3 separate regions of the Homo sapiens genome follow, and regions 1 and 3 are each linked to region 2. The links come from fine-mapping of genetic effects on gene expression. A gene starts in region 2. Each other region holds a variant in brackets. All regions are shown on one strand. Distances are between the middles of the regions.

Region 1 (8,173 bases), 26 kb after region 2:
TCTAAATAAATAAATAGCCAGGCGCAGTGACTCACGCCTGTAATCCTAGCACTTTGGGAGGCCAAGGCAGGCAGATTGCCTGAGCTCAGGAGTTCAAGACCAGCCTGGGAAAGAAACATGGCAAAACCCCGTCTCTACTAAAAACACAAAAAATTAGCCAGGCGTGGTGCTGTACGCCTGTAATCTTAGCTACTTGGGAGGCTGAGGCAGGAGAATCACTTGAACCCGGGAGGCGGAGGTTGCACTGAGCCGAGATTGTGCCACTGCAGCCCAGCCTGAATGACAGAGCAAGACTCTGTCTCTAAATAAATAAATAAATAAATAAATAAACATCTTTATTGAGATACAATTGACAGGTAGTAAGTGGTGCATATTTGAAGTCCACAATTTGGCAAGTTTTGGCTTATACACATATACACCTGTGGATTCCTCACCACAGTAACGGAAGTATTCATCACCCCCGGAAGCTTCATCCTGCCCCGTGTCATCCTCTGCCCTTCCCTACCTCCTCTCAACTCTCATGGGCCCTCTCTCCCTGCAGCGGCTGCAGAGCGGCACCACAGGTGTGTGTGCGCTCATTGCAGGAGCGACCCTGCACGTCGCCTGGCTCGGGGATTCCCAGGTCATTTTGGTACAGCAGGGACAGGTGGTGAAGCTGATGGAGCCACACAGACCAGAACGGCAGGTAAGGGGATCCCTGCGCCCAGGCCCAGGATATTCCTGGCCTCCATCATGCTGGGCCCATAGGGGAACCCCACCCAGCCTGGGAACTTCAGGTAGTAGTAATCCTGGCACCTTTCAAGAGGGAGGGCTCCCTGCCTGATTTGAGTGGCCGGGGGTCCCACGTGAGCCCTTCCTGAGAGCTCTGTGGGTCACAGCTATATGGAGCCCAGAGCTCCGGGGGAGAGCAGAGCCCTCTGCACTGACAGGCATCCCAGTGCAGTCAGTGCAGCCCAGTGCAGACCAGAGCCCATCATACACACGGACAAGGAGGCCACAGGCTGTGGGTGAGGAAGGCCTCAGGGAGGTGATGCTGCCCCGAGGCTGGAGGGAACCTGGCTTGGGGCTGTACTGACTAGAGGCTGCCTGGGACCCTGGCACTCAGGTCATCACCTGGACATGAGGATGACAGTCCCACTCAGACCTCTTCTCAGAAGACTGTCTCATCCATGTGTCTCCTGAGGTTGGATTGCGAGCATTCAGATATCATGGAATGACTGTTTATCCCTCAAACCCCACTTTTCCCACGTGCTGTTCTCCACCAGCTATGTTTGATTAACCATGCACATGGTGGATAATTCTACGTCAGCACATAGGAGCACCCATCCTTTCTTGGGGCTGCGGACATTGCATTCATCATGCAGTCCCTTGTGGGTGAGCATGAAGATCTTTTCAGTCTTTCGGTGCTAAAAACAATGCATCTCTACCTACTTTGTGCAGCATTAATTGCTCAGAGTCAAGTGTACCTATATCTGTAGGACACATCCCCAGAAGTGGGATGGCTAGGTTGGAACTGATGCACGTACAGTCTGGGTAGATTTGCCAAGCTTCCCACCTCAGGCCATGCCAGCCTGGGCTGGCACTACATTCCCAAGAAGGTCCATTTCCCCACAGTCTCACCAGGCTGCAGGATTCTTCCTGTCAGGTAAGAAGCCTGTCTTGGGGCAATTGTTAAGTTTGCTTTTCTGTTACAGAGTGAGTTTGAGCGTGTTTTCAAAAGCTGAAGATCATTTACACAGCCTTTCCTGCAAACACTGTTTTTTTCCTTTGCCTGTTTTTCTTATCAGTTTATAGGTTCCTTGTATATGTGAAGGAGGTTGGTTCCTTGTCTGTGATGATTTGCAAATGTTTTTCCATGCATCTTTTATTTTTGTTTATGGGCTTTTGCCACATGGAGGCTTTGTGTTTTTCTGTAGTTGAGTAGTCTTTTTGTGGCTTCTGGTTTGGAAAGCACATAGAGACACCAGGACTTGATGATTGTAACAGTCAGGGGCAGCTACATTCCTTGGCCTTTCACTGCGGCTCACGGTCTGGTATGGGCCCCCTGTACGTCCTCTCCCCATTGTACAGAGGAGAAAACTGAGGCTCAGTCACTTGCCCAGAGCACACCGCCAAAGTCACAGATAGTCTCTGCCACTCCCCTGCCTCCACCACCGTGGGGGAATTTGGCACCTGCTCCCTAGTGGGCTCTCCTCCCCAGGATATGCAGTCAGATGAAATGTGGCCAAGTCAGGATTCGTGCTGGGCCCACTCCCACCTGCTGCCTGCACACCTACAGGCTCAGCATTCAGCACCCCATTAAAGCCCAGTGGGGGCTCTGTTCAAACACTGCCTGAGTCCTGCAGTATGGCGTCGTGGCAGAGCATGGACAGATGGCCTTGCCTGGTCCCGGCTCCACCGCTTCCAAGTCCATCACACAGGGGTCCCTGGAGGTTTGGGGTAAGGATTGAGTGTCCCAGTGCATGTGGAGCACAGAGATCAGAGCTTGCACAAGAGAAGCACACACAGGTGTCTGTGTTCTTGGCTGCAGCCCGCATGGGCCAAGGAGTTCAGATCCAGTGCCCCCCACCTCCCCTTTCCTGCCGCCATGCTCTGTAGGCTTGGCCCCTCCTGCTGTGATCCTGATCACAGCCTTCCACCCTAGAGAATTAATCACAGATCCAGGCCAAGGTTCTCCCACAAAAACAAGCATCATGTCGGTTACAAGAGCAAGAAACTGGCCTCAACTTGGCGAGCTTCAACGGGGGTCCAGCAGCGGCCCAGAGCAGCTTCCAGGAGTACGTGGGGGGAGTGCGTGGTGCTCTGCCTTGTTCTGCGGCTGTCTGAACAGTCTCCTGCCTCTGCACTCAGTTCAGCCTCCAAACACTGAGTGCCCACTCTGCACAAGATACTTTGTTGAGGCAGTGAGATAACACAGGACCCACTTCCTGCCTCTAAGTCTAATGGGGGAGCAGGAGGAGGGCAAGGACCTGGCAGGATGAGGCAGAGAGATGAATGGAATGGAGCCGCATCTCAGGCAGTTGCAATTCCTGCAGGCCAGGGGAGAGACCAGGAGGAAAGGGCAGGTTATGCCAGAATCAGGGCCAGGTGTGGAGGTGTGCCCCAAGTGATCCTCCCACCTCTCAAGCCTCAGGAGACAGGAGGATGGCTTGAGCCCTAGAGGTTGAGGCTGCAGTGAGCTATGTTCATGACACTGCACTCCAGCCTTGGCAACAGAGTGAGACCCTGTCTTCAAAAAACAAAAACAAGCCCCAGAATCAGTGGGTAGAAGACTCGGGGCAGGGGAGAAGACCACCCACCTGCTGCTCCTTCAGCTGGAAAAGCTGGACTGCCCCAGGCTGGGAGGAACTCTGTAAGGACTCACTAGAAGCTTCTGAAGTGATCAGGCCACTGGAGGACAAGTTGAGGGCTGGGTCACAAAAGTGAGTTCAGGAGGGCAGTGAGAGTCACTCAAGGTCACAGGTCACGCTGGCACGCCTGGCAGGCAGCCTGGGAGAGATAGGAGTCCCGGCTCTGCAGGTGGAGACATCGCAGAGGGCCTTGGGCATCCAGGAGGATGGCAGTGCCATAGGCGACGCTGCTGCGGCCTGGCCGTGTGGAGCACTGCACTCCTAGGAAGCAGGAAATGGCTGTTCACAGGAACCCACAGGCCACCGGCTCCAGCTTTGACCTGGGAAGCTGTTTCAGGCAGGTGGAGAGGATGAGGTTTGAGGAGCAGAGGGAAGAGCTGCTGAGGGGGTGGGCGCTGGGCAGTCGGGAGGCGAAGGCAGGAGATGGCTTGAGCCCTAGAGGTCGAGGCTGCAGTGAGCTATGTTCATGACACTGCACTCCAGCCTTGGCAACAAAGCAAGACCCTGTCTCCAAAAAAAAAAAAAAAAAAAAAAAAAAAACAAAACAAAAAACAGAATCAAGAATCAGTGACTAGGAGACTCAGGGGGAATGGGACAAGACCCCTTAGCCTGGGGATATGTTAGTCCCGGACCAGACTGAGCCTGGCCAGTGTGTGACGGAGGTGGGAGCCACTGGAGGGGAGGAGGACCCAGGTTCAGGGCCAGGGTTAGAGGGGCGAGCCCGGGGAGCCGGCGCAGCCTGTCCAGCACAGGGGGTGCAGAATGGCAGGAGAGGGGATCACAGGCTGCAGGGGAGCAGCACAGCCCCTGTGCCCTCCTGCCCTTTGGCTCCACCCTGTCCCACAGCCATCCCTGGTGGTGGGGAGGGGCTTCAGGTAGGAAGGTTCTAAGCTTAGCCTGCATGGCCCCCTGTGGGGGAGAGCCACCTCCAGAGGGCATGGGAAGCAGATTGCCGTTCATTCTCCATCACCTGCCCACATTCCTGCCTCTGGGACATTGAGGGGCTGGAGTGGGCTGGGGTGTGTGGGAGACAGAAGCAGAGAAAGGCTCCTCATTCTCCCTGGAGCCTCCCACGCTCACAGCCCCTCCCCAGGGAACGCCTCTGAGGCACAGGGGAGGAGGCGCTGCTTCCTCTGCAGCTCCTCGCCGTCTGCAGGCGCCTTCACGCGTGTGTGTGGGCACATGTATGTGTGAACATTCGTGCGTACTCTGTGTTC[A/G]TCCACCTGCCTCTCCCCGTGCCCTTTCTCCTGCCCTCTTCTTGGCTGTCTCCTGCTCTTCCCTCCTTCCTGGTCCTCCTTGCCTTTCCCTTGCCCTGCTCAGACCCCGGAGGTGGCAGATCTTAGACCCAGAGAGAGCCTTGAGGTCCCTGTTCCTGCCCCCTTCATGGCTTGATTCTCCACCTCAGCTGGGACAGGAGCACCCAGCCTACCAGGCACTGGTCCAGTTCCCACACAGGCTCATGGCTGCAGTGCCCAGGAAGGCCGGGACTCCTGCAAACCCATGTCATTCCCACCACAATGCCCTCTGCAGGGGAGCCACATAAAGAGGCCTGGTCCTTGGTGCAGGCATCTGGAGAGGGCTGCCTCCCCCAGGCCTCCCGCAGTGCATGTCCGTCTGCTCTGGGGAGGGAATTGGCTGATATCCCAATCTGTCTAGGGGACACCATCACCTGGGGCATCAGAGTTCTCATGCCCAGCTGGTGCTGTGCCTGGGGACTAGAAGGGCTGGTGCTGCGTGGGGTCAAGAGGTTTACCTGATAAACCGGTAAGGGATGCCCTCTTCCCCCAGTAGACTTGGGAGGTGCCTCACTCCCAGGGTGCCTCCGTCACTCTGTCAGGGATGCTGTTGTGCAGGCTTCAGTCAGCAGGCTCTCATCGGGGCAGCCTCTCCTTTGGGCAGAGGCTGATAGGACCAAAGAGGTTTCTAGAGGACTTGTGGGTGGACCAAGCCTCTGTCCTGTCCCTGGAGGAACCCAGGCCTGGGGTGTTGTGGTCCCCAGCTGAGTGGAGACTGTGCCTGTGCTGAGCTTGGGTAGAGGAGGACAAGAACTAGGCCAGGCGCGGTGGCTCACACCTGTAATCCCAGCACTTTGGGAAGCCGAGGAGGGTGGATCATGAGGTCAGGAGATCGAGACCAGTCTGGCCAACTTTGAGAAACCCTGTCTCCATTAAAAACACAAAAAAATTAGCTGGGCATGGTGGCACGCCCCTGTAGTCACAGCTACTCAGGAGGCTGAGGCAGGAGAATCACTTGAACCCAGGAGGCAGAGGTTGTAGTGAGCCAAGATCGTGCCACTTCACTCCAGCCAGGTGACAGAGCGAGACTCTGTCTCAAAAAAAAAAAAAAAAAAGAACTGGGCGGGCACAGGCTGCCGTCAGGGCCTCGCTCAGGCTTCCCTGCTGTGTGACCACTCACGTCACATGCTCCATCTTGGCCCAGCAGCTTTCAGGGCAGAGACGGTGTCCCCGAGCTAGAGACAGGGAAGCAGAAGGATCTGCTGTCTGTGTCGGGCTCGCAAGCCTCGTGAGTGCCTCCCTGACCCAGAATGCTGCCCAGGGGCGCAGGCACCGCTAGGCGGCCTCAGGTGGTCCGTTCATTTCACCATTCCTGCAACTAAAGGACTTGTGGGTTGTGTATAATTTCTCACTGTTTTTGATGAGCCTCGTTTGGGTGCATCTCTGAGCCTCCTGGCTTTGTTCCAGTGCTGCGGCTTTGAATGCTGCTGTCTTAGAAGCAGCTGTGCCTCTGCTCAGGTAGCAGCAGGGGGCTTCACGCCCCATCCCCCCGGCCCTGCCCCCAACTCTGGCTGTGTTTCTGCAGGATGAGAAGGCGCGCATTGAAGCATTGGGTGGCTTTGTGTCTCACATGGACTGCTGGAGAGTCAACGGGACCCTGGCCGTCTCCAGAGCCATCGGTGAGAGCCAAAGAGGCCGACCCAAGTGGGAGAAGGTCTCTCGGAAGCCCAGGCCTCGAGTGTGGCCCGCGGCTCACCAGGGGTTCAGGGAGGCAGTGTGATGGGCCGAGGGGGATTTGTCATGCACTGGGGTGATACCCTCGTAGTGTGAAGGGAACAGGGCAGATTCAGAGACTGCAGCACCAGTGTCTGAGTGTAAGTTACACTGTATGTTATTATCTCACCTAAAACAGCTCCTACAAATCTCATAGAAACCTGTGGCTCACCACCCTATGGGCTGGAAGTAGAGCTTCCAATATTCCGGAAATGAGGTTTATCCTCCTCCCGCGTTCATGCTGACAATCCTTTTTTCTCTTTTGGGAAAAAAGTGGGTTCGCTGGGCGCGGTGGCTCACGCCTGTAATCCCAGCACTTTGGGAGGCCGAGGTGGGTGGATCACCTGAGGTCGGGAGTTCGAGACCAGCCTGATGAAACCCCATGTCTACTAAAAAAAAAATACAAAAAATTAGCCAGGCATGGTAGTGAGCCCCTGTAATTCCAGCTATTCAGAAGGCTGAGGCAGGAGAATCACTTGAACCCAGAAGGCGGAGGTTGCAGTGAGCTGAGATCGCGCCACTCCACTCCAGCCTGGATAACGAGGAAAACTCTGTCTCAAAAAATAATAATAAAAATAAATAAAAATTTTAAAAAGTAATGGGTCTGGCTGGGCATGCTGGCTCACGCCTGTAATCCCAGCACTTTGGGAGGCCAAGGTGGGCGGATCACCTGAGATCGGGAGTTCGAGACCAGCCTGGCCAACATGGTGAAACCCCTTCTCTACAAAAAATACAAAGTTAGCCAGGTGTGGTGGCACGCGCCTGTAATCTCAGTTACTTGGGAGGCTGAGGGAGGAGAAGTGCTTGAACCCAGAGGCGGAGGTTACAGTAAGCGGAGATCGTGCCACTGCACTCCAGCCTGGGCAACAGAGCCAGACTGTGTCTCAAAAAAAAAAAAAAAAGTAGCTGGGCGCGGTGGCTCACGCCTGTAATCCCAGCACTTTGGGAGGCCAAGGCGGGTGGATCACCTGAGGTCAGGAGTTCGAGACCAGCCTGACCAACATGGTGAAACCCCATCTCTACTAAAAATACAAAAAACATTAGCCGGGCGTGGTGGTGCCTGCCTGTAATCGCAGCTACTTGGGATGCTGAGGCAGCAGGATCACCTGAACCCTGGAGGTGGAGGTTGCGGTGAGCCAAGATTGCACCATTGCACTGCAGCCTGGGCGACAAGAGCGAAACTCCATCTCAAAAAAAAAAAAAAAAGTGGGTCCAGCCTGCATCTCATTGTCTCAGCATGCGGTCAGTGCCGGGTCTCAGGCTGTGGGCACTGTGACCACACCTCCTTCCTGGTACTTAGAAAATCTCTCCCTCCCCAGCTGATTGCCAGGGATTTGGCACCTACCCCTCTGAAACATTCTGTCCTTTTTGGCAGATGTGGCACCTTCTTGACAGCCCATCCTCAGGCTGTGTCTTTCCTTGTGTCTCTGGACACTCCAGGAAGTGAGGCCAGGATGGGACGGCTAGGGCAGAGAAAGAGGGAGCTCGGCCTGGTGTGGTGGCTCATGCCTGTAATCCCAGCACTTTGGGAGGCTGAGGTGGGCAGATCACAAGGTCAAGAGATCGAGACCATCTTGGCCAACATGGTGAAACCCCATCTCTACTAAAATACAAAAAAAAAAAAAAACAATTAGCTGGGCATGGTGGCGCGAGCCTGTAATCCCAGCTACTCGGGAGGCTGAGGCAGGGGAATCGCTTGAACCCAGGAGGCAGAGGTTGCAGTGAGCTGAGATCGCGCCACTGCAGCCTGGCGACAGAGCAAGACTCCATCTCAAAAAAGAAAAAAGAAAAAAAGGGGGAGCTCACAGGCCAAGG
Region 2 (8,173 bases):
CGGGTGTCCGCCGACACCTGCAGTGTCTGTGAGGCCGCCTTGCTTGATGTGGACTTCAACAAGGCCAAGTCCCCACTCCCGGGCGATGAGACGCAGCACATGGGCTGCGTCTTTTGTGACCCCGTCTTCCAGGAGCTGGTGGAGCTGAAGCATGCGGCCTCCTGCCACCCCATGCACCGCGGTGGACCAGGGAGAAGGCAGGGTCGAGGGCGGGGCCGGGCCAGGAGGCCCCCTGGGAAGCCCAACCCCAGACGGCCCAAGGACAAGATGTCAGCCCTGGCCGCCTACTTTGTATGATGACCCTGTCCTCCCTCACCCAGGCTGCAGTGCCATGCAGACACCTCATGGCACTTCAAACTATTAAAATGCATTTTATCTTATCCAGAGCTGGGGCCCCTTTGCTGGTGCAGCGATGTCAGAGCGTTACCGTGTCCCTGGGCACCTGTGGGGCCCTCTCTCCCTCTCCGAAACCCAATACGTCTCCCTTCAGCCTGCATACACGTGCCCAGAGTGCTCCCTGCTATCCCTACACCCTGGCAGTACGGGCAGGGATGCCCCAACCCTGAAGCCCTGGGGAATAGACCCAGTTTGCACTCACACCCCATCTCAATCCGTGCTGCTGATGGTAGCTGTGTGCACAAGCAGTGGCCCTGATGCCTTAAGGAAGGCGGCCTTGACAGCTGTGGCTCCGGCAGGAGAGGAGTCTAGTGGAGCAGGTGGGGCTGGGAGACCCCCTCCCCGGATCTGGCTTATGAATCCCCTTGGTCTTCGCTGCAGCCCCCTGCTCAGGGCCACGCTCTTGACCCCACACTTCTCCGTCCCCTGCTCCCTGCTCCCATCTCTGAGAAGCCCTGTACATGGTGCCCGTGTGCGTCTGGCAGCTTCCCAGGACCTGCTGCAATTCCCATTCTCACAACAAGCCCTTATGGTCTTAGAGGCAGCTGGGTGCCCCATGGAACCCATTCACATGCCAGGTTTAGAAAATACCCTGTAGGCCAGACTGCCGTGTGGTGCCAGGTGCTGGTGGCAGCTGCCCTCTGACCTCAGTGCCTTCTTGTGCTCCCCTCCCCAGCCACCCGAGGAGAGACACCTGTGCGGGATCCACTGTGTGTTGGAAACTCCCTCCACACTCCGCCCGTGCCTCATTGAGTGATGACGGGAGCTCAGCAAAACAGCTTTCCAGACTGTTCAGTGGGACCTTTCTTTGAGGGGCAGGTCAGGAATGTTTCGGACTCAGACCCGCCCCCGCCCCAACTCAGTAGTAGATTCCCAGGCTGCACCAGGACTTATATGAGAGCTCCTGTAAGGAAACCCAGAGCCCACCAAGCATACCCCCCCTGGACCCCCTTCCTGGAGGCCCTCACAGGTTAACACGGGGGTTCCCTGGAACACAGTTTGGAGAGCTACTCGAAGCTGAATGAAAATACAGAGACATGGGGAACCACATAGAGGGTCCTGGGATGTGTCTCAGAAGCACAGGCTTCAGGAAGGAGGGGGTGCTCTCAGAGCTTCTGCCCCCTCCCACCCACTCTGGTCCCATTCTGGGGCCCTAGCAAGGCCACACCTGTTAGGTCCCCAGTGCGGGGCTGTGACTCTGCTCTTCCACCCACAGGGCCCAGTGGACCTGGAGCCTTCTCCGCAGAAGGTTTCAAGACCTCCAGGACCCTTAGGTTATAGGGCTCATTCAGGCTTGGAGGAGCAGAGACGGTTCCTAGGTCTTAAACCCAGACCACCCAGTCCTTCCTTACTATGCTTCTGCACTGCGCTTTCAGCCACAGGCAGGGCTAATCACAAAGTGTTCCTTTATTTTCCTCTGCAGTTGTCCCTTGTGTGTGACCCTCCTTCAAGGCCCTTGGCTTCCGCAGCTTGATTCTGCACTCCGAGTCCATTCACCTTCTCCCATCCAATAGCATCCAACCCCGCTGCTACTGCTGCCAACCTGGCCTTGGGAGCAATGAGGACAAGGAAGGGACAAGACCCCTTTTAGGCCAGAACTGCCTTCAGATCAGCCACGCTCCATGGGACTGTACCTCTGCCCTGGAGGCTGGAGAGGTCAGTGGCTGCAGACTGTCTCAAGGAGCCCCTGGCCCTGCCCACCTAGCCAGGGGTGCAGCCTTGCCAGAGAAGCAGAGAAGCGTCTGTGGCTGGGTGGGTGATATTGAAAGATTCCTTTCACCAGGGTGGAAGCCAGGATCTGAGGCGTGATGGAATGTGGACAGTGAGGCAGTGACAGCGCCACAAGGCAGGAGTCATCTCCAGGCACGTCCTTGGCCTGGAGCCCATAGGGACAAGCTCCTGGTGGTGCCTCACTTTGCCATCCTCTCTAAGCCGCAGACCTTGAATGGAATCAGTGCTCAAGAGTCTAATTGGGCCCACTCTGAGGATGCCTGCGGGAATATCAGCTTTTACCGCACCACACTGCACTTTACAGTGTGGGAGGGCCTGCCCCACGCACCACCTCACCTGTACTGCGGTTCTCAAACTTCACCCTACAGCCATTCTGTTGTAGGTGATCTCAGGGGCAGTTTGAGAAACAGTGGCTCAGGGTCTCACAGCAGCCCTCTGAGATAGGTTGGTTGCTATTGTCCCGATTTTTTCTCATCAAGAAACTGAGGCTCAGGTGAGCTAAGGAATGTGCCCAGGGCCACTGTTTATAAGAAGTAGCCTCAAGCCTTGCTCATGGTTACTGCCCTGACAGGGATCTAGGAAAGAGTGAGCAGGAGAATGGGATGAGGCAGGACCCTCCGCCCCAGCCCTGCTTTCTCTGCCCAGACACCTCCTGCCTTGCAGACCCAACCCCACCCCAGATGGTTTCCTTTCCAGTCACCCAGCTGCTAGTTCTCCAGGTTCCTGGTCTCACTCCAGGTTCCTCCTGTTAGAGAAGCATCCCAGAGACATTCATTCCTGGCAAGGACACAGGCCTGCGGACCTGAAGGTCAGGTGGGCAGAGCCACATAAGATCTGGTGCCCCATCCTCCATTTAAAAAATTATACTTTCCAACGGCATTGGTATAAAGGTGAATATATTAATATCATATATTAAAACATTTTCTTTGACATAAAGGTTTCTTTCTTCTGCCTTTAAAATAAAATATTTTGGCCAGGTGTAATGGTTCACACCTATAATCCCAGCACTTGGGAAGGCTGAGGCAGGAGGATCACTTGAGCCCAAGAGTTCAAGACCAGCCTGGGCAACATAGAGACCCTGTCTCTACAAATTTTTTTTAATCAGCTGGGCGTGGTGGTGCTTGCCTGTGTTCCCAGACACTAGGAAGGCTGAGGCAGGAGGGGAGGGTCACTTGAGCCCAGGAGTTTGAGGCTGCAGTGAGCTGTGATCATGCCACTGCACTCCAGTGTGGGCACCAGAGAAGGAGCTTGTCTCTAAAAAGAGAGAAAAAGAATATTTTCAAGAGCCTCTGTGTTGGCAGAAAAATGGCCCTTCAGAGATGTTCATGTCCTATACCTGTGCCTGTGTTAGATTACATGGCAGACCCGGCATAGTGGCTCACGCCTGTACTGTAATCCCAGCACTTTGGGAGGCCGAGGCAGGCAGATCATTTGAGGTCAGGAGTTTGAGACCAGCCTGACCAACATGGTGAAACCCCATCTCTACTAAAAATACAAAAAAAATTAGCCGGGCATGGTGGTGCGTGCCTGCAGTCCCAGCTACTCGGGAGGCTGAGGCAGGAAAATCGCTTGAACCAGGGAGGCAGAGGTTGCAGTGAGTCGAGGTCATGCCACTGCAGTACAGCCTGGGTGACAGGGTGAGACTCCGTGTCAAAAAAAAATAATAATAATAATAAGGGGCAAAGGGGAATTAAGGTTGCTAATCAACTGATTTAGAGAGATGATGCTGGACTATCTGGGTGGGCCCAATGGCATCAGGAGGGTCTTTAGAAGTAGCAGAAGGAAGCAGAGGAGGGAACCAGAGGTGGCAGTGTGAGAAAGGCTCAACTGGCCATTGCTGGCTTCGAGGCTGTAGGAAGGGGCCACGAGCCAAGGTATGCAGGGAGCCCTTAGGAGCTGGAAAAGGCAGGGGAACAGTTTCTCCCCTAGAATCCTCAGAAAGGAACGCATTCTGGCGATCCCTGGATCTTCGCCCACTGAGGCTAAGTGGACTTCTGACCTCCAGAACGGAAAGATAACAAAAGCCTCAACGTTTGTGGAAACAAACAACTCATAATGAGCCTGGGACTGTGCCTCCTTCCCGGACGGATGAGCCTGCCTGGGCAGTCTGGGTTTGCATCCCTGCTCTGTCACTTACCAGCTATTGACGGCAGAAGTTGCTTAATTTCTGGGCGCTGTGACCTAGGGATTGCTTTCCCCATCCAGCCGCCCACCCAAAGCTGCAGAAGAGAAGCAAGAGGCTGGTGACTGGGGCGGCTCCGGAGCCCAGGTGGAGCCGCAGTTCGCCTACCACTAAAGGGCCGCAGTCACCGTCCACGTAGCCGCCAGGGGGCAGCAGAGGTCCGGCCCCGCCAGCCTGGAGGCCCGACTGCGCCTGCGCGGCGCCCGCGGCGCCCGCGGCGGCCAGGGACGGGAAGTGGGCGGGGCCGGCCGGCAGCAGCTTGCGGGACACGGAGCCGCGAGGAGACAGCTGAGGCCCGCGGAGACCAGGGGTGAGGAGGCCGGGGGGGACGGGATTAGAGGGCTGACGGGGCTGGGACGAGGGTCAGGCGAGCGCCCAAGGCGCACAGGGGTGAAATGGGACCGAGGAACCGGAGGGGTGGAATCAGAGGGCTGGGGAGGCAAGGAGGCCGAGACGAGGCTCACATGGGTGCACCGAAAGGGTGCGGGGGTGCAGTGCGGGGGGCCGAGGAGCAAGAGGGGCCGCTGCGGACATGAGGAACCCGAGGCTGGGAGTTGGGGGGCTGGGGAGCCAAGGGGGCAGAACTGGGGGGCAGGCGGGGGTGTGGCCGAGCCGAGGGCCTGGTAGGGACCGAGGGCTATGAGGCAGAATCGGGTGCTGAGGGGGACGCGCCCCATTTTCCGAGATTTGGCCTCTCCCCACCCCCCAGGAGCCTCTGGGCCGGCACGTTGCCCCATATCCCCCCAGTCCCTGCACCTTCAGGGGCCCAGTCTGCCTGATGGCCCCCGGCTCCGCGGCCTCCCAAGCGTCCGTGAAGCGAGCGTCAGCTGCACAAGTGCTCGGGCTGCAGCTGCTTCAGCCACAGGTCTGTGAGCCAGAGCCTCAGGCGCGGAGGCCGGGCACATTGCCGCTGGGTTCGGTCAGGCAAGCCCCTGAACCTGTCTGTACAACAGGAAGAACTGGCTCCGGCTGCAGGGATTTCGGCACAGCGCTTGACACACAGTGAGGCCCACTGCATGGTGGCGGGCTCCTTCGAAGCCTTCCACCCTGCGGGACAGAGTCACACATGTCGTGGTGGCATTCCCCGGGACAAGTTCTCTGGGCCCAGCTGAGCTCTCACCACGGGGGATAGAAAGTGGGGCCGGCCAGCACTCTGAGGCCATCTCCAGTCTCTTCTGTTGTCAAATTTCGCTCTTTTCCTCCTGCACGCGAGGTGGAAATACCAAAGGCATTGGGCATCCAGAGACCTTGATTGAGTTCGCTTTGCCCTTTCACCTGTGTGAGACCTTAAATGGGTGCTTGCCCTCCTATAACCTATTTCTTCATCTGCAGTGTAGCCTGACAGTATGTACTTCTCAGCGTAGTTGTGAGAGGTAAACAAAACGAATGCATTTCTGAAAGCCATGAACCTCTACACAAGTTCATTTGTGGAATTCCTTTAAGATACCCCCTGAAGGCCGGGCGCGGTGGCTCATACCTGTAATCCCAGCACTTTGGGAGGCCGAGGCAGGCATATCACCTGAGGTCAAGAGTTCCAGACCAGCATGGCAAAATCCCATCTCTACTAAAAATACAAAAATTAGCCGCGCGTGGTGGCAGGTGCCTGTAATCCTAGCTACTCAGGAGGCTGAGGCAGGAGAATTGCTTGAACCTGGGAGGCGAAGGTTGCAGTGAGCTGAGATCCCACCATTGCACTCCAGCCTGGGCAACAAGAGCGAAACTCCCTCTCAAAAAAAAAAAAAAAAAAAAAAAGGATACCATCTGACCTGAAGCCAACCGAGTCTTTTAAGACCTGGCGCTGCTGCCCACTGCACCCTTCAGAGTGGTGTAGCTTCCTCAGCCCATGCCACCCGCCAGTCACTCTTCCCTCTGCCATCACACTTACCACCTGCTGTACACAAAGGGCCATCGTGGGCTCCCTGACTACAGGGAGCTTACAGTCTATCAAGAAAGTCAGGCCTGTAGAAAGAAATGGTCATTGCACAGCAATGTGACTATGCTTAATGCCATGGAACTGTACGCTTAGAAATGGTTAAAAGGATACATAGTGTGTATATTTTACAACAATAAAAAAAATTTATATATGTAGAAAAAAAATCTAGGATTTACATCTAACTATTATTAGTATTAGTAGTTATGAATAAAGAAATAAGAATCTCTTTTGGTAGAAAAAGGTTGGCCAGGCGTGGTGTCTCATACCTGTAATCACAGCACTTTGGGAGGCTGAGGCGGGCAGATCACCTGAGGTCAGGAGTTCGAGACCAGCCTGGCCAACATGGTGAAACCCCATCTCTACTAAAAATACAAAAAAATTAGCCAGGCGTGGTTGTGGGTGCCTGTAATCCCAGCTACTAGGGAGGCTTAGGCAGGAGAATCACTTGAACCTGAGAGGCGGAGGTTGCCGTGAGCCAAGATTGCGCCACTGCACTCCGGCCTGGGTGACAGAGCAAGACTCTGTCTCAAAAAAAACAAAAACAAAAAAAAACAGTTAACATGAATGATGCTTTTGTTACACTATAGTGGTGCAGTTCCCTTTTCTAAGGATTGCTGGGTTTTTTTCATTACCTTGGTTCTGCAGTTAAGCAAGACTCAACAAGTATTTTTTCTATGTCCCCTAAAAAACTGCAGTTGTTAAACCCTGCATTCGTTAAGCTTAGGAGTCAAAACTAATGCACTAGAGGAAAATAAATATTTTAAATTAAAAAAAAAAAAACTTTTTACAAGTCAGATGTGAGCAAAAGTGCCATAGAGACATGAAAGAGAGCATGCTGGATCCAAAGATGGGGAGATTTCAGCAAAGCCTCAAAGGATCTGAGAGATCTCGGGAGGCAAAATGGAAGGAGGGCACCACAAAACAAGGAGGGGAGGGGCTGCCCTAGGGTGGGGGGTACACAGAAATGGAAGGAGGAGCCATGAGAGAGCCAAAGCCCAGAGCTGGTGGCCAATGAGGGACAGGTCAGGGATAGAAGGAGTCAGAATGACTTCCCAGGTGTCATCACAGTTAAGGCCCAGGTTCCCCAGCATGAACCCCACCCTGGGACTTTGGGCAAGTTCCTTAGCTCTTCTGCTACAGCCTGCCCTGTGAAGTGGGGATAACCACAAGAGGTTGTTGGGAGGCTAAAAGCCATCCCAGGAAGAGTGCTCAGAGCAGGGGCGGATGGCAGCTGGCAGCACCGTCAGCCACACCCCTGCAGCTGCCCCCCGATGAGTTTGCTTTGCCATTTCTCACCTATGTGGGACCTTAAATAGGTTCTAGGAGGGTGAGCACCCATTTGGTGTGCAGTGGGGCCCTGATCCAGGAGGAACCAGCTGCCAGTCGCATTTGGTCAGACTGGTCCAGGCAGGCGGTGCTGGGATGCAGGAGTCCAATGTCCCTCCCATGCCCACCCCGGGCTCTTGGTGATTTGCACAGGCTCATGCACACGTCCCTCTTATTCGGAGTTTTTCACTGGTGTGCCCTGCTCAGGAAAGCCCAGCACCAGGCTCCGCTGCCTCTGGTGCTCTCCCAGCTCTCCCTACTCCCTGCGGCTTGCCGCTGGCCTCCATGCCATTCCTGATGCTGTCTCTTCCAGTTGATCCCTCAAAGAACCACAGCACTGTCCCCTGCCCCTCCAGGCACTCCCAGGGCTGCCTCTGGTTTCCCTTGGTGAGGAATTTCTCCTTCCTGCCGGGTGTGCCATGGTGTACGTCAGATTCAGGAGCTTATTGGGAAAAGGAAGGAAATGATTCCTGTCCCTTTCGACATCTGGGCTCCAGGGAGAGAAAGCTGTGTCCTGGTTTCTCTCCTCACCCCTTGCCTTAGGTTGGTGATGCAGAAACAAGGGTGCTTGGTCCCCAGCAAGTAAGATGGCCCTGGGCACCCTG
Region 3 (8,173 bases), 37 kb after region 2:
CACAGTCCCATGAGGGCCCCTAGCCAGGGACACTGGTCTGTAAATTGTAATCCTTTCTCCAGCCCAGCTCTCCACTTGTTCCTTGTGTGAGCTGAGCAGGCAGTGCACCTCTGAGTGTCCCTTTTGTAAGGCCCAGGGGTTGCACTGAGTCTGCAGAGGCCGCGACCTCCTAGAACGCTGTGGGTGCAGGTGAGCCGGCGTGTCCTGGGGAGATGCTGCCAGCACACAGGGGCCCTCCTGCTGCCAGCAGGTTGGGGTGGTTAAGTCTTATTAGTGTCTATTCTTAAAATTAAGTGGGCTGGAGAAGAATGGAGCTCCACATGCCAGCACCGTATATGGAATACAAAAGCTGGGGAAGCAGGGCCTGCCTTACAGGTGTGGCTGACTCTGAGCCCAGGCCTGCAGGGGTGGAGGGCAGTCCCTCAGAATCCCAGAGGCAGTCCCAGCCTCAGAACCCAGGATAGGAAATGGGTGTGTTTAGTGGGGAAAGGGACGGGGTGCAGACGGCAGGGCCAGTATGGGGCCCCCTCCCTCTCCTCTCCTCTCCTATGGTGAGCCCAGCGTGGGCACCGGGCCGTCTCAGCCGTGTTCCCAGGGCTGGGAGGACAGCTCTGGCCCTTCTTAGGCCTAGCCTCGTCCCAAGCTAAATGTAAGCCAGTTGGGCTGTGTTAAAGGAAGCAGTGTTTTTGGTTCGATTCTGCCTCTGTAGCTCAAGGGGGGCAGCCCCCAGAGTCCTGTGCATTCTGCCAAGGCTCCATAGCTTTGCCAAATGCACGGAGCTCTGCCATTCCGGTGCAGTGCAGGCCTTGCGAAGGGTTTATCTGCGTTCGTCTCGGTGGGCTTCTCCTGCATGGGAGTTGTGTTCCTGTGCAAGGGGGAGCTTTGCTCCAGGACAGGATGACTGTCTTCCCTATTCTTAGGGACAAGTCCCAAGATGCCAGAAAGGCAGTCTCCCAAGGACCCACCATGCAGAAGTGTCAATAAACCACAAGTTCTGAACTCTGTCGCCCGAGTCCTGCCTTCTTCCTGACTTCTGAGCATCTTGTCCCCTTTGATGTCCAGATGTGTTTGGAAGCTGCTTTAATATTGGGGACCATCTGCAAATCTTGCGAAGCGAGCAGACAAATTCTGGAGAGAGCCCTGGTGGCCTACACCCTCCTGGTCTAGCCAGCAACCTGATTTTCCTCCCTGAGGGGCTCTGAGCCCACCCCCACCAGCAGCAGGAAGGTGACAGGAAAGGGATTAAGCCCCTGGGACCTCACATGACATTGGGGAGCCACAGGAGCATTGAGGACCCCTCATTTTATCCAGGAGCCTGATGTGCCCCAGGAGGTTCCATCCTGAGGATGGAGACCCTCTGACATGACGCTCTTGAGGCCCACCATTTATACCCTCCTGGCACCTCCTGAGGCCAGGTGTGGTGGCGCACACCTGTAATCCCAGCACTTTGGGAGGCTGAGGTGGGAGGATCTCTTGCGCTCAGGAGTTTGAGACCAGCCTGGGCAACATAGGGAGACCCCCATCTCTACAGATAATCAAAAAATTAGCCCCAGTATGATGGCACAAGCCTGTAGTCCCAGCTACTTAGGAGGCTGAGGCAGGAGGATCGCTTAAGTTTGAGGAGCTTGAGGCTGCAGTGAGCTAGGATTGCGCCACTGCACTCCATCCTGGGTGACAGAGCAAGACCTTGTCTCAAAAAAAGAACAAAGCACTGAGCCTTTCTTCTGCCCCCTGCTCCCGCCACCCCGCTCCGCCATCCTCGAAGCCTGCATGGCACTTGTCCCACATGGGAGCTCGGCTGCCGCCCAGAAGTGAATCCACTGCAGGTTCACTGCTGGTGCTCCCTGAGGGGCAGGGTTATAGGGGGTTTTTTCCTCCCCCCTTTAGGTTTTCTTCTAAATCCTAATTTTTTTTAGTACGGTGAACATGCTTTAAAAATGCTTTTATGTAATCTGTCATGGGAATTTTAAGGGAAAAAAAAGATAAAAATGCCTTAACAGAAGACCTGGAGAGATCCACCAGCAGCAGGGGTGGGCAGTGCTAAGCCCTGGGGTCCTGGTAGAGAACTAGGAATGGCAGTGGTGGCTGCACTAGGTGGGGGAGCGAGGCTGAGGGGGTGGGGAGCAGCGCTTCGGTGGTGGGCAAGCCTCACTGTTCCTGGTGGAAGGGACTGGCCCCTGATGGCTGCTTGGACAGATATCAGAAACTCACCTCAGGACCACCACACCTGATGGATTTTAGGGAACCCCCCACAAGGCCCGCCCACCTGCCTCCCTTTGCTCTAGACCTGTGGCCCCCAACCACAACCTCCAGTCCAGACCTCTGTAGCCTCACCCACCCAAGGACGGCCAGCAGCAAAATGCAGGGCCTTGGCCCGAGCGTTGCTGCTGGTCGCTTAGCAGGCTGGAGGGCTGGTTCCCCCTGAAGCCCCAGGATAGCACGCACAGGCCCAGTCCCATGTGGCTGCAGCTCCTAGCACACATGAAACTGCTCTTGGAGACGGCTTCAGAGCCTTCTCAGTGCCCTCAGGGGGTCAGTATTGAAGCAGCCAGTCGTGGGACTCTGTCGACCAGTCCTTCAGCGCATGTTGGCCAAGTGTTTGCCACGCTGCTGCAGGTGCTGGGGCAAGGGATGAGCCAGCTACCAATTCCCCACCTAAGACAAAGAGGATTCGGCTTATCACACAGGGGTCAAGTGCCCCTAGGCCGCAAAGCTGCTAAGGGGTCCAAGCCTTGGAAAGTCACCCTTCTCAGAGTCCCCAATTCTTCACTGCCTTTTGATCTTTGGTTCCTTTCTCAATCAAGAGAAAGCAAGGCAGCAGGGGCCGGGAAACTCGCCCTTGTGCTCCTGGCTGAGCTCAGGCTTCAAGGGCACACAAACATCAGAAATGCCTCCCCGCAGACACTGCCCAGCCACGGCCAAAAGTGCTGCCCTGAACTTCTCCGTAGAATGTGGGGGAGGCCCTCAGGCTTGTGGGCGCATGGGAGCAGCTGTCCTAGGGCTGCCTGAGCCCGGTGCCTTCCCCACTCCCACTTTGCCTGCAGGCCTCCTCTCTCCTGTCTGTAGCCTTGTCTGTGCATTTTCTCCTGGTCCTTCCCAAGCCACCTGAGAGAGCTCTCAGTCCCCTCCCCCGGCTCCCGGCAGTGCCTGCTGCCCAGGGCTGCAGCCTCCAACTCTCCAGGACCAGCGCCAGAAAAGCAGCTTTTTTTTTTTTTTTGAGAGAAGTCTTGTTCTGTCTCCAGGCTGGAGTGCAGTGGTGCGATCTTGGCTCACTACAACCTCCACCTCCTGGGTTCAAGCGATTCCCCTGCCTTAGCCTTCTGAGTAGCTGGGACTACGGGTGCACACCACCACGCCCAGCTAATTTTTGTGTAGAGATAGGGTTTCACCATGTTGGCCAGGATGGTCTTGATTTCTTGACCTTGTGATCCACCCGCCTCAGCCTCCCAAAGTACTGGGATTACAGGCGTGAGCAACCGCGCCTAGCCAAAAGACAGCTTTATCTGTGTCCACTGTGTCACAGAGGGGGCATCCTTAGGGAAGCAGGGGAACTAGCCCCGGATGCAAGAGCTGGGACCAGGCCCTGGGCCGCCCACCACACCTACTCAAGCATCCATGTCCTCCTCCCCACACCCCTGCTCCTCTGAAGCTCCCAGCAGGATTTCCTTCCTAAGTATCTGCTGTCTTGACTGTTCTCTGGTGAACTGGCTTATGTGTCTGAAACTCATCTTCACAGCCAGATAGTGGCTCAGTGCTCTCTGTCTGCCCCTCACTTTCACAGAGCTGATCCCGGAGAGCACCCTCTCTCAGGACCTCTGGGTGGGGGGGGGGGAGGCCCAAGGGACTGAGGGTGCACAGGCAGGCAGACGGGCTGGAGCTGCCTGGCACCTACAGGGGGTTCACCCATGGGAGCAGGCCACAGTGTGGCAAGTGGGGGTGGGG[A/G]TGGAGGTGAAAGGGGTGTGAGCCAACCCCTCAGTCAGGAGGGGGCCAAACCTGGAGCTAAGTCTAGCACAGACAGCTGAGGCCAGAGTCTGCCTGGGGAAGGGGTGGGGAGCTGGGGGGTTAGGACTGGGCCTCACACCCACCAAATGGAGGCTTCAGCTGGTGGAAGGGAGCCCAAAACCAAGGTCCCCCAGGCAAGAGGTGACGTGAGGCAGAGCCAGGGAAACAGAGGCAAGAATCCTGGCTGGGAGGGCTGATGACTGGCCTGCCCCAGATTTCCCTCAGAAGGTCCCTGGATCCCAGCTGCGTTGTGGTCCTGCAGATCCCTCCTGTTCTCACCTGGTCTTGAGAACAGGTGGCTGGTCTTGGGTGGAGCCAGGCTCTGAACCAGTTGAGGACAGGACCTCAGCTGGGGGGCTCCATACACAAAGCTGTCTTGGATCTGCTTCCTGGGACTTGGACATCGGTGTTCTGGACATCTGGGCCTCCCACAGCCAAGAAGTGGGCACAAGCCCTCGAGAGCCAGCCCTGAGGATTTGTCCTACCCCCATAGAGGGTCCTGGCCAGATGTGTTAGCTCCAGGAGCAGCACAGGGAGCCATGGTGGCACCAAAGCCCCATCACAGGCAGGCCTCTCCTTGGACCACTGTCCTAGGCAGTCACTGTGGCCATAGTCAGGGGACCTCTTCCTCACTCACTGCCCAGCCCCAGGAGGCTCAAAGGCCTGCCTCTGGGGCCCACTCCCTCCCTGCCATCTCAATGCCTGATCCCAACAATGTAGCAGACTTTTCTGAACAGCTTATCATGGTCTGTTTTCTTTCAGTAAGTGAAAGATTTTTGCACCAAGAAAAGTTTGTAGGCAGACATTTAGAAAAAAATAGTGGAAGTTTCTTACACCGTATGTGTCTATAAGGACACAGATATCAAGCCCTGACAATCCTATATGAGCAGTTCATCAGGTGCTGTTTTATTTCAGTAAATGGAAGACAAAAATCTTCTTCCTTTTTTTTTTCTTTTTTTTTTTTTTTGAGAGAGAGAGTCTCGCTCTGTCACCCAGGCTGGAGTGCAGTGGCGCGGTCTCAGCTCACTGCAACCTCTGCCTCCGAGGTTCAAGCGATTCTCTCGCCTCAGCCTCCCAAGTAGCTGGGACTACAGGCGTGGAGCACCATGCCTGGCTAATTTTTTGTACTTTAGTAGAGATGGGGTTTCACCATGTTGCTTAAGCTGGTCTCAAACTCACTCCTGAGCTCAGGCAGTCTGCCCACCTCGGCCTCCAAACGTGCTGGGATTACAGGCGTGAGCCACCACGCCTGGCTTTCTTCCATTTTTAAAACACAAAGCCTTTGACATCAACACCTTGAGAATTGATGTCCAGATCAGCTCCAAAGCCTAACAGTGAAACAGACCCACCAGCCAACATCAAAACAACTTTGCCCATAATAAGAAGATCCTTCTAGACTTCACCCTCGGCCGCCCCCACCACTCACCCTCTAACCAGTATCCTAAATGTTAGAATCATCCTCATAGATTTACCACTATGTCTATATCCCTACACACTGCTGTATAGTTTTGCTTATCTTTTAACTTTCTGAAAATGACATTTTACTGTCTGCTTTCTTATACTTCATGTTTGTGTCACTTAGCATATGTTTCTCGAATTCATCCATGCTGTGTGGGTTTCTGGATCTTTGCAGAAACAGAGCTGCCATAAACATTCTTGTCGGGTCTCCTGGTTTCCATGCACAGGAGTTTCTCTAGGGTATACACCAAGAAGTGAAAATGCTGGGCAGAGCAGGCTATGCAATTTGTAAATTAAAATTAAATTAATTGCATTAAAATTTAATTAAATTTTACATTTTTATTCTAATTTTTCCTTTTTTTTGTTGTTCGTTTTTTTGTTTGTTTGTTTTTTCGAGATGGTGTCTCACTCTGTCTCCTAGGCTGGAGTGCAATGGCACGTTCTCAGTTTACTGCAACCTCTGCCTCCTGGATTCAAGAGATCCTCTTGCCTCAGCCTCCCAAGTAGCTGGGATTACAGGCGCCTGCCACCATGCCCCACTAATTTTTGTGTTTTTAGTAGAGACGGCATTTTACCATGTTGGCCAGGCTGGTCTCAAACTCCTGACCTCAAGTGATCCATCTGCCTCAGCCTCCCAAAGTGCTGGGATTATAGGCATGAGCCACTGCACCTGGTCTTTTGTTTGTTTTTTGTTTTACAAGTGGGATCTCACTCTCTTGCCCAGGTTGGAGTCCAGTTGGCTCGCTGGAGCCTCGACCTCCTGGGTTCAATCTGGCCTCCCACCTAAGCCACCCAAGTAACTGGGACTACAGGTGCACACCACTATGCATGGCTAATTTTTTTACTTTTTTGTAGAGATGAGGTTTCACCATGTTGCCCAAGGTAGTCTTGAACTCCTGGCCTCAAGTGATCCGCCTGCCTCAGCCTCCCAAAGTGTTGGGATTACAGGCATGAGAGCCACTGCACCTGACCTAAACATTTTTTAAATTTATTTATTTATTTATTTTGAGACATAGTCTTGCTGTCTCACCCAGGCTAGAGTGCAATGGCGCCATCTCAGCTACGTCTCCCAGGTTCAAGCGATTCTCCTGCTTCAGCCTCCCGAGTAGCTGGGATTACAGGCGCCCGCCACCACACCCTGATAATTTTTTGTATTTTTAGTAGAGACGGGGTTTCACTATGTTGGCCAGGCTGGTCTTGAACTCCTGACCTCATGATCTGCCTGCCCAGGCCTCCCAAAGTGCTGGGATTGCAGGCATGAGCCACCACAATTGGCCCAATGTTTAGGGCTGGGCGCAGTGGCTCACGCCTGTAATCCCAGCACTTTGGGAGGCCGAGGTGGGCAGATCACGAGGTCAGGAGTTTGCGACTAGCCTGGCCAACATGGCAAGACCCCGTCTCTACTAAAAATGCAAAAACTAGCCAGGCGAGGTAGTGGGCACGTGCCTGTAATCCCAGCTACTCGGGAGGCTGAGGCAGGAGAATTGCTTGAACCCAGGAGATGGAGGCTGCAGTGAGCCAAGATCACGCCACTGCACTCCAGCCTGGGTGACAGAATGAGACTCTGTCTCAAATAAAATAAAATAAAACAAAATAGTTAAAATTAATTTACAAATTAAAATATGAGCTCATCTGGGCACAATGGCTCATGCCTGTAATCCAAGCACTTTGGGAGGCCAAGGCGGGTAGATCACCGGGTCAGGAGTTCAAGACCAGCCTGGCCAAGATGATGAACCCATCTCTACTAAAAATACAAAAAAAAATAGCTGGGCGTGGTGGCAGGCACCTGTAATTCCAGCTACTCCGGAGGCTGAGGCAGAGAATTGCTTGAACCCAGGAGGCGGAGATTGCAGGGAGCCAAGATCGTGCCATTGCACTCCATCCTGGGCAACAGAGCAAGACTCCATCTCAAAACACACACACACACACACACACACACACACACTATATATATATATGGGCTATATATATATATATATATGAGCTATATATATATGAGCAATATATATATATGAGCTATATATATATATATGAGCAATATATATATATGAGCTCACTGGGCATGATGGCTCACATCTATAATCCTAGCACTTTGGGAGGCCGAGGAAGGCGGATTGCCTGAGCTGAGGAGTTCAAAACCAGCCTGGGCAACACGGTGAAACCCCGTCTCTTCTAAAATACAAAAAATTAGCCGGGCGTGGCAGCGTGCGCCTGTAGTCCCAGCTACATAGGAGGCTGAGGCAGGAGAGTTGCTTGAACCCAGGAGGCAGAGGTTGCAGTGAGCCGAGATCACGCCACTGCACTCCAGCCTGGGCGACAGAGCAAGACTCCGTCTCCAAAAAAAAAAAAAAAAAAAAAAGAGTTCCTTGATAAAATATCAGGGATTTCTGTACAGCAGCAGCATCACATTAAACCAGGTGCAGGCCCCATGGGACCACACAGGTGTGCAGCCACAAGGCCAGTCTGCACTGAGTCTTCATGCCCACCTGTCTAGGCCATGCATCGGCTTGTACCCAATGTCAGTGCTCACAGCATTTCTGTTGTTTCTTGTCCTCACCACCTCGTTTCTCATCCTCACCACCACTTGGGACCATCCTACTTGTAAAATTTTTGTCAATGTAATGAATGTAAAATAGCATCGTGTTGTGATTTCAATTTGCACTTCCTTGGTTACCCAAGAGGGTGAGCAGTTGGTGAGTGTGTTGACTGTGGT

Which allele goes with the higher level. Alleles are on the strand shown, and positions count from the first base shown. SD is a standard deviation of normalised expression in the study named. Not every link is listed here.
As copies of A replace G in region 3, the expression in tibial artery of the gene that starts at base 4,563 in region 2 goes up (small effect, 0.18 SD a copy in GTEx).

Evidence for each region. PIP is the estimated chance that this variant, and not a neighbour inherited with it, causes the effect. A credible set is the group of variants that fine-mapping cannot tell apart.
Region 1: its variant is the best candidate, but not a certain one, in a credible set for the expression of PPM1F in whole blood (INTERVAL, PIP 0.89).
Region 3: its variant is the best candidate, but not a certain one, in a credible set for the expression of PPM1F in tibial artery (GTEx, PIP 0.89).

What each region holds. Positions count from the first base shown.
Region 1 is chr22:21,923,660-21,931,832 of GRCh38, reverse strand. It overlaps PPM1F (protein phosphatase, Mg2+/Mn2+ dependent 1F), which reads left to right. Exons shown (of 8, transcript NM_014634.4): 6 at 542-685; 7 at 6,171-6,264. Among named protein-coding and RNA genes, the nearest start is that of PPM1F-AS1, 10 kb to the left of the region's middle. The variant A/G (reference allele first, on the strand shown) is at 4,568.
Region 2 is chr22:21,949,238-21,957,410 of GRCh38, reverse strand. PPM1F (protein phosphatase, Mg2+/Mn2+ dependent 1F) reads left to right here and starts at 4,563. Exons shown (of 8, transcript NM_014634.4): 1 at 4,563-4,619. It overlaps TOP3B (DNA topoisomerase III beta), which reads left to right. Exons shown (of 18, transcript NM_001282112.2): 18 at 1-386. The coding sequence ends at 297. RefSeq lists a silencer at 4,371-4,780 and enhancers at 4,774-5,294, 5,341-5,410.
Region 3 is chr22:21,912,251-21,920,423 of GRCh38, reverse strand. It overlaps PPM1F (protein phosphatase, Mg2+/Mn2+ dependent 1F), which reads left to right. Exons shown (of 8, transcript NM_014634.4): 8 at 1-999. Among named protein-coding and RNA genes, the nearest start is that of PPM1F-AS1, 22 kb to the left of the region's middle. RefSeq lists enhancers at 1-521, 2,697-3,507. The variant A/G (reference allele first, on the strand shown) is at 3,943.